2 linked regions of the Homo sapiens genome follow. The protein of the gene in region 2 purifies or fractionates together with the protein of the main gene of each other region. This does not show direct contact. Each region holds a gene or a part of one and is shown on either strand. Other genes may lie near its edges. The genes, in order: P4HA2 and COL4A2.

The links.
Region 1: the proteins of COL4A2 (region 2) and P4HA2 purify together in Homo sapiens (co-immunoprecipitation; one large-scale study listed by IntAct). This does not show direct contact.

What each region holds. Positions count from the first base shown.
Region 1 is NC_000005.10:132,193,230-132,197,038, forward strand, and holds part of P4HA2 (prolyl 4-hydroxylase subunit alpha-2 isoform 2 precursor), read right to left. Parts: intron 2,252-3,809; coding exon 2,183-2,251; intron 1,794-2,182; coding exon 1,697-1,793; intron 1-1,696. UniProt on the Homo sapiens protein: Catalyzes the post-translational formation of 4-hydroxyproline in -Xaa-Pro-Gly- sequences in collagens and other proteins.
Region 2 is NC_000013.11:110,310,132-110,313,940, reverse strand, and holds part of COL4A2 (collagen alpha-2(IV) chain preproprotein), read right to left. Parts: intron 1-3,809. UniProt on the Homo sapiens protein: Type IV collagen is the major structural component of glomerular basement membranes (GBM), forming a 'chicken-wire' meshwork together with laminins, proteoglycans and entactin/nidogen.

The sequences.
Region 1 (3,809 bases), on a different chromosome or scaffold from region 2:
TTGGTAAGGAAGACACATGTAAACAGATAATTGTATGAAATTCTGCCAGTGGGACAAGATACATGTGTGCAGGTTGCCATGGGAATAGCACCCAAGGGCATCTAATCATGCCCTTTCATGCCCATGACCTTTGATGCCCTTTGGCTCTATTCCCATGGCAACCTGCACACATGTTTCTTGCTCTTAGAGGGAAGAGGAAATCCTAGGGCTAGAATATAAAGCTACATAGAAGTTATCCTGGGAAGAAGATGGGCATACCCAGATGGTTCTCTCACCAAGAGGGTCCCAGGAGTGACAACAGGATGAGAAAGTAATCAAGGCAGAAGCCACCCTGACGTGTGTTGGGGACTCAAGAGGCCTAATATTACTGGGAGGTGGCAGGTAGAAACTGAGAGGTAGGGTGTGAGGATGAGGAAGACTGTCAGCATTGCAGAGGGCTTGGACATTAACCTCAGGAGCCGTGGACCAGCAGATCCAGTCTGTATGCCATGGGCACAAGAGCAACAGAGCTGCTGCCAGCACTATCACCCCACGCCATATCTTCAAACACACAGGAACCATGATTCTGTTCCTCACAGACTCTCTCATAATGAATAAAAATTTTATTTCAATGCACTACTGAAGTCACAGAGCTTTTAAAATATAAAGTAATAACATGTACTTCATTGAAAAAAATAAAATTGTCGCAAGGCTTATAATGATAAATAGCACTCCTCCTAAGCCTCTCCTTCCCATCCCTAATCTCCACTCCCAGGGAACATTAAACTCCTCTAGCTGTTTCTTCTGATATTTAACCTCATTTTTCTAGATAAGATGCTTATAGTTCTATTCCTTGACTTTCAACTTTGGAATTCTTTTATTCTACCCCTAAAACACAAACTCATCCCCTCCCACCTTTCCAGTACAGGTAAATCATAAGTTTTAGTTAAAGTAATACTCAGTGTGTACATAATTATATCATGTGTTACACCTGAGCCATCTAGTAGATTATACTTACATTTCCTTTCTTGTACAACTTTTTTTCCCCTGAATTCAGCAACTGCCTTGTTTTCTTTTCCATTTGCTTAATTATCTGCAAACCTATCACTATTTATCTTCAAAACTCTCCAAGGGGGCTACACACTCATCTCCTTACAAACACTTCCTGTCATATCCTGGTTTGAGCCTCTCCGAGGCTCACCACAACTGCTCCCAGGATAAGGCTCAAGCTTGAGCCTCTGCAGTTTGGTCCCAGCCTCCAGCCTCATCTTCTGGCCCCTGTGCCACAGGCCTCCCTTTCTTCAAGTGACAAGGGAGCCAGCCCCCACACCCGTATGCTGGTTTTAGCCTGTGCCTCCATCCATATGGGCCTTGTTTGCCTGAGACACTCTTTCCCCTCACTGCTTCCAGCTCTCCACTCTGCTCCCTCAGAAGCCTTGCCAGAGGGTCCTGGACCTATGGTGCTTATGCAGCTATTCGTCCTCAGGCCTTCTTCAGCTTCCTGTGTATCTCTGAGTGTTTCCAACCAGCTGCCTTGGCATTTACCAGCTGCATGGACATTACATGGCTGGATGGTAATAACAGCAGAAAAAAACCTAAGAAGGGAGACAGTCTCAGCAAATTTGGCAGCAGTTGCCTCCCAGCTCAGAATCTAAGGCCAATAAGCAAAGCCCAAGCTGAGGCCACCAACACCAACACTACCCCTTAAGACACTCACCCCACTTGCAGCCCACAAGCACAGGGCAGGCAGCATGTCTTGTTCGGTAGTCACCTTCCCCGCTCCGCAAGAGGTTGTACCAGAACACAGCTGTACCCTGGGAAAGAGATGGCCTTTCAGAACACATTCTTAAGAGACTGTGCTCAGGGACCTGACTGCAAGCATCACAGAAGCTCTGCCCTGAGCAGAAACACCCTCATTTTCCCATGGACAGGGGATAGGGCTCTGGGACTCCAGCAACAGAGACATTTCCCAGAAAGCACCTACCTTTCTGAGGTAGAAGTCTGGGAACTCACCCGCCCCTGAAGGGACTTCCCTCCCTGTCCTTTCTTCACAGGGAGAAGCTGGGCTACCAGGTCAGACCCCAGGTGGGCTAAGGCACATCACAGTGACAATCAGGCAGGCCAGGTAATGGTACTGGGGGACATGGACAAAGTAAAGTCTGAGCCTTGCTTCAACCTCTGACCCACAAGAATCAGAACTTACCTTCTTAGGCCAAATTGCAGCCCCCAGATCAGGGAAGACGGTGGCACCACCAGCTTCTACATCACTCATCTGGAAATATAAGACATAGAGCTTGACCCTCCTACCCAAGGCTCTCAGAGCAATTGAGCCACAAAGGACATGACAAGGTATATAGATTGCCCTCCTCTCAGCATGAGTGACACTACTTGGTGTCTGCTCCATGGCCAGCCCTTTAGCCAAGAAAGGCTCTTCCCATGCCTACTTAACCAGTGTGATTCATTAGAACAGTCTCCATGTCATGAGTGTTCAAGAGTTGAGGCCCACAGGAGACCCACATCCGGGCTGTCCCTGGATGAAAATAATCTGAGTCTGTACTCAGAAAATGCCTGTTCTGACCCCACCCTTTGAATCCCCATCTAGCCTTGGCCTTGCCTAAGCCACTGTACTCTGCAAAGTGCCCTGACCAGGAGCTCTGTACTGTTTCCAACACCATGTGCAGTCCCCACTGCAGCTCTGTTTCTCTGGCTCTAGTAGTTTGCTGCTCTAGTCAGACCTTCACCTTCCCAGAGTAGCCACCCTTCCTGGGGCCAACTGAGTGGAAGGGTGGGGCACTGTGTCTCTAGAGGCCCTGCTTTCTCCTATGGTAAGGCCTTAAACTACATTGAACACAAGTTCCACACTAGCAAGGCTGTACTCATGCCCACAGAGCATGCCTTGACTCATGGCCAAAGCACTACTTCTTTCCCATCTGGCTCTCTTACTTTTTTTGTCCATAATTTAATAAAAATTGGAGGTAAAAAATATTTCCACAGGACACATACCAGACTCACTGAAGGGTACTTGACAGACATATGGTAAATGAATAAGACAAAAGCTCTGATGGCTTCTCACAGCCCTGTGGATCAAACTCAGATTCTTTTCTAGAACCCCAAGGCCCTGTCAGTCTCACTAGCCTCTCTCCAGACACACCAGCCTTTTTCTACCTTTCCAACATCCCAAGTTCCTTTTCTCTTACAGGACTACATACACTCTCTCTTCTGCCAGAAACCATGTTCTACCAGCTAATTTCCACTCAACTTTTAAGTCTCAACTGATATGTTACTTCCAAAGAGAGGCCTCCACTGAACCCCAAGCCTGGGGTTCACAGCACCTGTCTCCATAACTACATAATAATCTCTCTGATGTTTAGGCTGGGCATGGTGGCTCACGCCTGTAATGCCAGCACTTTGGGAGGCCAAGGCGGGTGGATCACTTGAGGTCAGGAGCTTGAGACCAGTCTGGCCAAGATGGTGAAACCTCATCTCTACTAAAAATACAAAAATTAGCTGGGCATGGTGGTGCACGCCTATAATCCCAGCTACTTGGGAGGCTGAGGCAGGAGAATCGCTTGAACCTGGGAGGCAGAGTTTGCAGTAAGCTGAGATAGCGCCACTGCACTCCAGCCTGGGCAACAGAGGGAGAGTCTGTCTCAAAAAAAAAAAAAAAAAAAGATAAAGAAGAATCTCTCTGATGTTTAAAATAAGTCTCTCATATTGGACCTCAAGCACAAGAGAGACCACATATGTTCTGCTCACCAGCATGTACACAGCACAATCCCCAGCATGTAATAACCACACAATAAAAGCATAAAGGGAAAAAATGGACACAG
Region 2 (3,809 bases):
GAAGCAGAGTACTCAGGAGCCAGCCAGGAGCTCAGGAGACAGGGGAGGGGCTGGAACCCAGCACCGAGGTAGGAGCCTGCCGGGTGGACGCGGGGCACCGGGGTGGGAGCCTGCCGGGTGGACACGGGGCACTGGGGTGGGAGCCTGCCGGGTGGACGCGGGGCACCGGGGTGGGAGCCTGCCGGGTGGACACGGGGCACTGGGGTGGGAGCCTGCTGGGTGGACGCGGGGCACCGGGGTGGGAGCCTGCCGGGTGGACACGGGGCACTGGGGTGGGAGCCTGCCGGGTGGACGCGGGGCACCGGGGTGGGAGCCTGCCGGGTGGACACGGGGCACTGGGGTGGGAGCCTGCCGGGTGGACACGGGGCACTGGGGTGGGAGCCTGCCGGGTGGACGCGGGGCACCGGGGTGGGAGCCTGCCGGGTGGACGCGGGGCACCGGGGTGGGAGCCTGCCGGGTGGACGCGGGGCACCGGGGTGGGAGCCTGCCGGGTGGACGCCGGCTGCTCGCACGTCCTTTGAAATTCACTCTCTGGCCACATCAACAGGACTGGAGACACCTGTGAAGTCTCCCTAGAATTAGATGCCGCCTTCTCCTTTCAGGGGTAACCAAAATAAAAATTACCGTCCTCCGGAGCCACCAATGAAATCAAGAGCAGTGAGTCACTTAGGCCGTCACCTGTCCTGACAGGGTCTCATTAACTGAAGGGAGTGGGCACCAGAGGGAAACAGCAAGAGGGGACTATCCAGGAACTCTGCCCTTTTCCTCATCTCAACTGAGAAATGTCACATATTTACTGGATTCCAGAAGCTTCTCGACACCGTGAAGATAAAAAGTCCCATGTGGCATATTGATTTCTAAGCGATATCCTGGTGCAGGCTGGATAGATTCTATTCTGGAGCTTATCTGGAAGGGCTTTCTCATCCCCAGCATCACAGCGGAGACCCCGGCTCACCCTCACAGGTCTTAGCACACCTGCACAGGCCAGCCCTCACTGCTGACCTCTAACTTACTCATGGTATGTTGATCACCTGAGAGATCCATTCCACACAACATTCTCTTCCAGGCTCCAGAGCCAAAGCACGTAAAGTGTCTTGCCCTGAAGTCAGAACCCGGTTAGCAACAGGCTGGATTAGACTTTATGGCCTCTCAAGACTATTGTGTCATTCCTGGTCCCTGATTCACAAGCTCTATCAGCCAAGGCTGGGGGTTGCAGACATTGCCTCCTACCTTCAGCAGTGATCACACAGTAGACACCAGCAGACACAAAGCATGAGGCCAGTTTCAGAGCTTTCTCTAAAACCCTCTAATCAAAGACAAACATTCTTCTTCAGATAAAAAGAATGAGACATTCTCAAACCACTTTCTAGATGGTGATCTCTTCATTATATTATCAACACAGGGTTGAAAAGTTAAATCTCCATGGCACTCAGTTTTTCCCTTGAGTTTCTCTATTATTTAAACTACACATCCATTTTCTTTCCCTCTCCCCAGAAACACAATTAAACACAGTTCTTTGATTTTTATTATTTTAGCAAAATCTTTTTTCTATTCTAGAACCTTTTCCTCTTCACCTCTCTCTCTCTGGTTGTAAACATAGCCGCCTGGTCGTACAGAGCCTGTTTCCTCTCCTGCGCTTTTCGGTTTACCCTTCCTACCCACCTCTCCTTCTGGGATGCTGCTGACAAATCTCTGCTATTATTTATCGTGGCCAAGTCCTACAAGCCACCCATGGAGGAAGACTTTAACAGCCTCCAGAGAGCTGAGATATGCTTGTTTATCCACGAGCAGAGGAGGAACCCCGTGCTTTTCCCTTCTTCTCAGAGGGCCATGTTTTGAGCAATAGCGCTTCAGCTCCAGGAAATGCAGGAAAGAATTGTCCTTCCCGATCCTTACAGAAAGCTCTGGGCCTCGTGCGGCATGAACACCTCTCCTCCCTGTACCAAAGCCTGCGGAAAGGACTTGCCACCGCAGCTGCCGGCCTGGAGGGCAGGGAAGGCGGTGGCAGCCAACAGGAAGGTCAGGCGAATTTCCTGGGGCTGGAGCCCCGAGGACAGCCTGGAAACTAAGCGGCAGGGTGGCAGGCAGGGGCCCCGCACTGATGCCTACGTGAACCCACGTCTATTGTGGCCCCAGGTCCCGGCCAGAGGTCCTCAGGTGACCACCCAGCCGGCTGCATATTTGATCCCTCAGGCTGCTGCCAGCCTCTGGAGATAGGTGACAATGCTCAGAGCGGCTACAGTGAGTGCTTTCAAGCCTCCATGAAGGTTAGAATAGGCAGCCGAGGGGAAGTCCCTTAAACAGGCCCAGGGGATACCTCCTGGCACCCAGGCTGTGCCAGACCCTCCAAGGCGCTTCACATGCACCCACACACCTCACAGCACCCCCATCTATGAGGTGGGTGGGATGAGTAACACCTCCGTTTTGGGGGAGAGGAGAACTAGGACGCAGAGGCTTGGCGAATGTCCGCCCCAGGCGGCAGCCCCTCAGCTGCCCACCAGACTGAGAACTGCACCCCGTCACCTGCCTCAAGTCTGGGATGGGACCCCTGTGTCACACTGCCTTACACGAAGCCATTTTGTGCATCTTGGCACCACATTCAAACAAGGGCACCTTTAGAAAGGGCACCTTGGACAGCAGGGAGTGTGTCCTGAGGTGCCCACACAGATCACCTGGGTTCACACTGAGTCTAGAGCCCAGGCTGCCCCGTGGGATTTCGGCTTCCTTTCCTCCCTTTGGGAAGGGTCTTGCTTCTCTCCTTCACTTGCTGCCCCTGATCCTCACAGTGGGAGAAGCAGAGGAGGAAGGAGGGGGAGAGCCTCCTTCCTAGGAATCAGTGCCCGCTCCACTGTTAGTCCACGGTCAAGACCAAGAAGAAAGCACCCACACCCCAGGAGACTCAAAGACTGAAACTCAGGAGTGCCCTCCCGGCCACCTTTCAGGCCCTGGGAAGCTCGGTGTGGAGGAAGAGGCCTGGGTTCTAATCCGTCTCATTCAGTTACAAAGACAGGAACCTTGGGCGAGGGCTGCAAACCCTTTGTGGCTTTTCTCACCTGTAAAATGGGGGTAATAATAGTTACCTAGCTCATCAGTGTGCTTGCTTGTGAGGATTAGAAGCATTAGTACAGACAAATTGGCACACAGGAAGTGCCCAATAAGTAATCACCAAGGCTCTTCACTGCCCATCCTAGCTGCTTCCGAAACAAAACAAGCCAAAGGGCTCCCAGCGGCAGCCCTTTTTCCTGAACTGACCTACGCAGGAAAGAGTCCTTGCCACAATTAAGAAAAATCTTTAATCAATACAGTTGAAAATTGAAACATTATTTCACAAGGAACAGCCATTAAAGCCAGTGGTTACCAAGAAGTGAGTAAGTAGAAGACCAGCCCCTTGTTGAACGTAACAAACTACATGTCTCTTAACAACACATATTACTAGGTCCCTAGTAAAATGATTAAAAATATCTATTTTTTTTGGTTGAGTTAGAATCTAAAGCCCAGGAAAATAAAGTGAATTGGCAAGTAATCTCAACTGCCTCTCAACCCAATACTGTAGCTCAGTGGTTCCCAGATTCTGGTATCATGTGGGGAGGCGGAGTCCCGGACTCCACCCTGGAATGTCTGACCTGAAGGTCTGAGATGGGGCCTGACTTCTTAACAAGCCTTTCAGGGTTTAGGTCTGGGGGTCTAGGGGGCCTGCACTTTGAGAAGCTCTGCTGGGCAATCAATGTTCTTGGTGCCATCCAAAGATCAAAGAGTCAAAGAGACTGGGGGTGAGCTTGCAGCAATGATGAGGTTTTGGGGAGGCATAG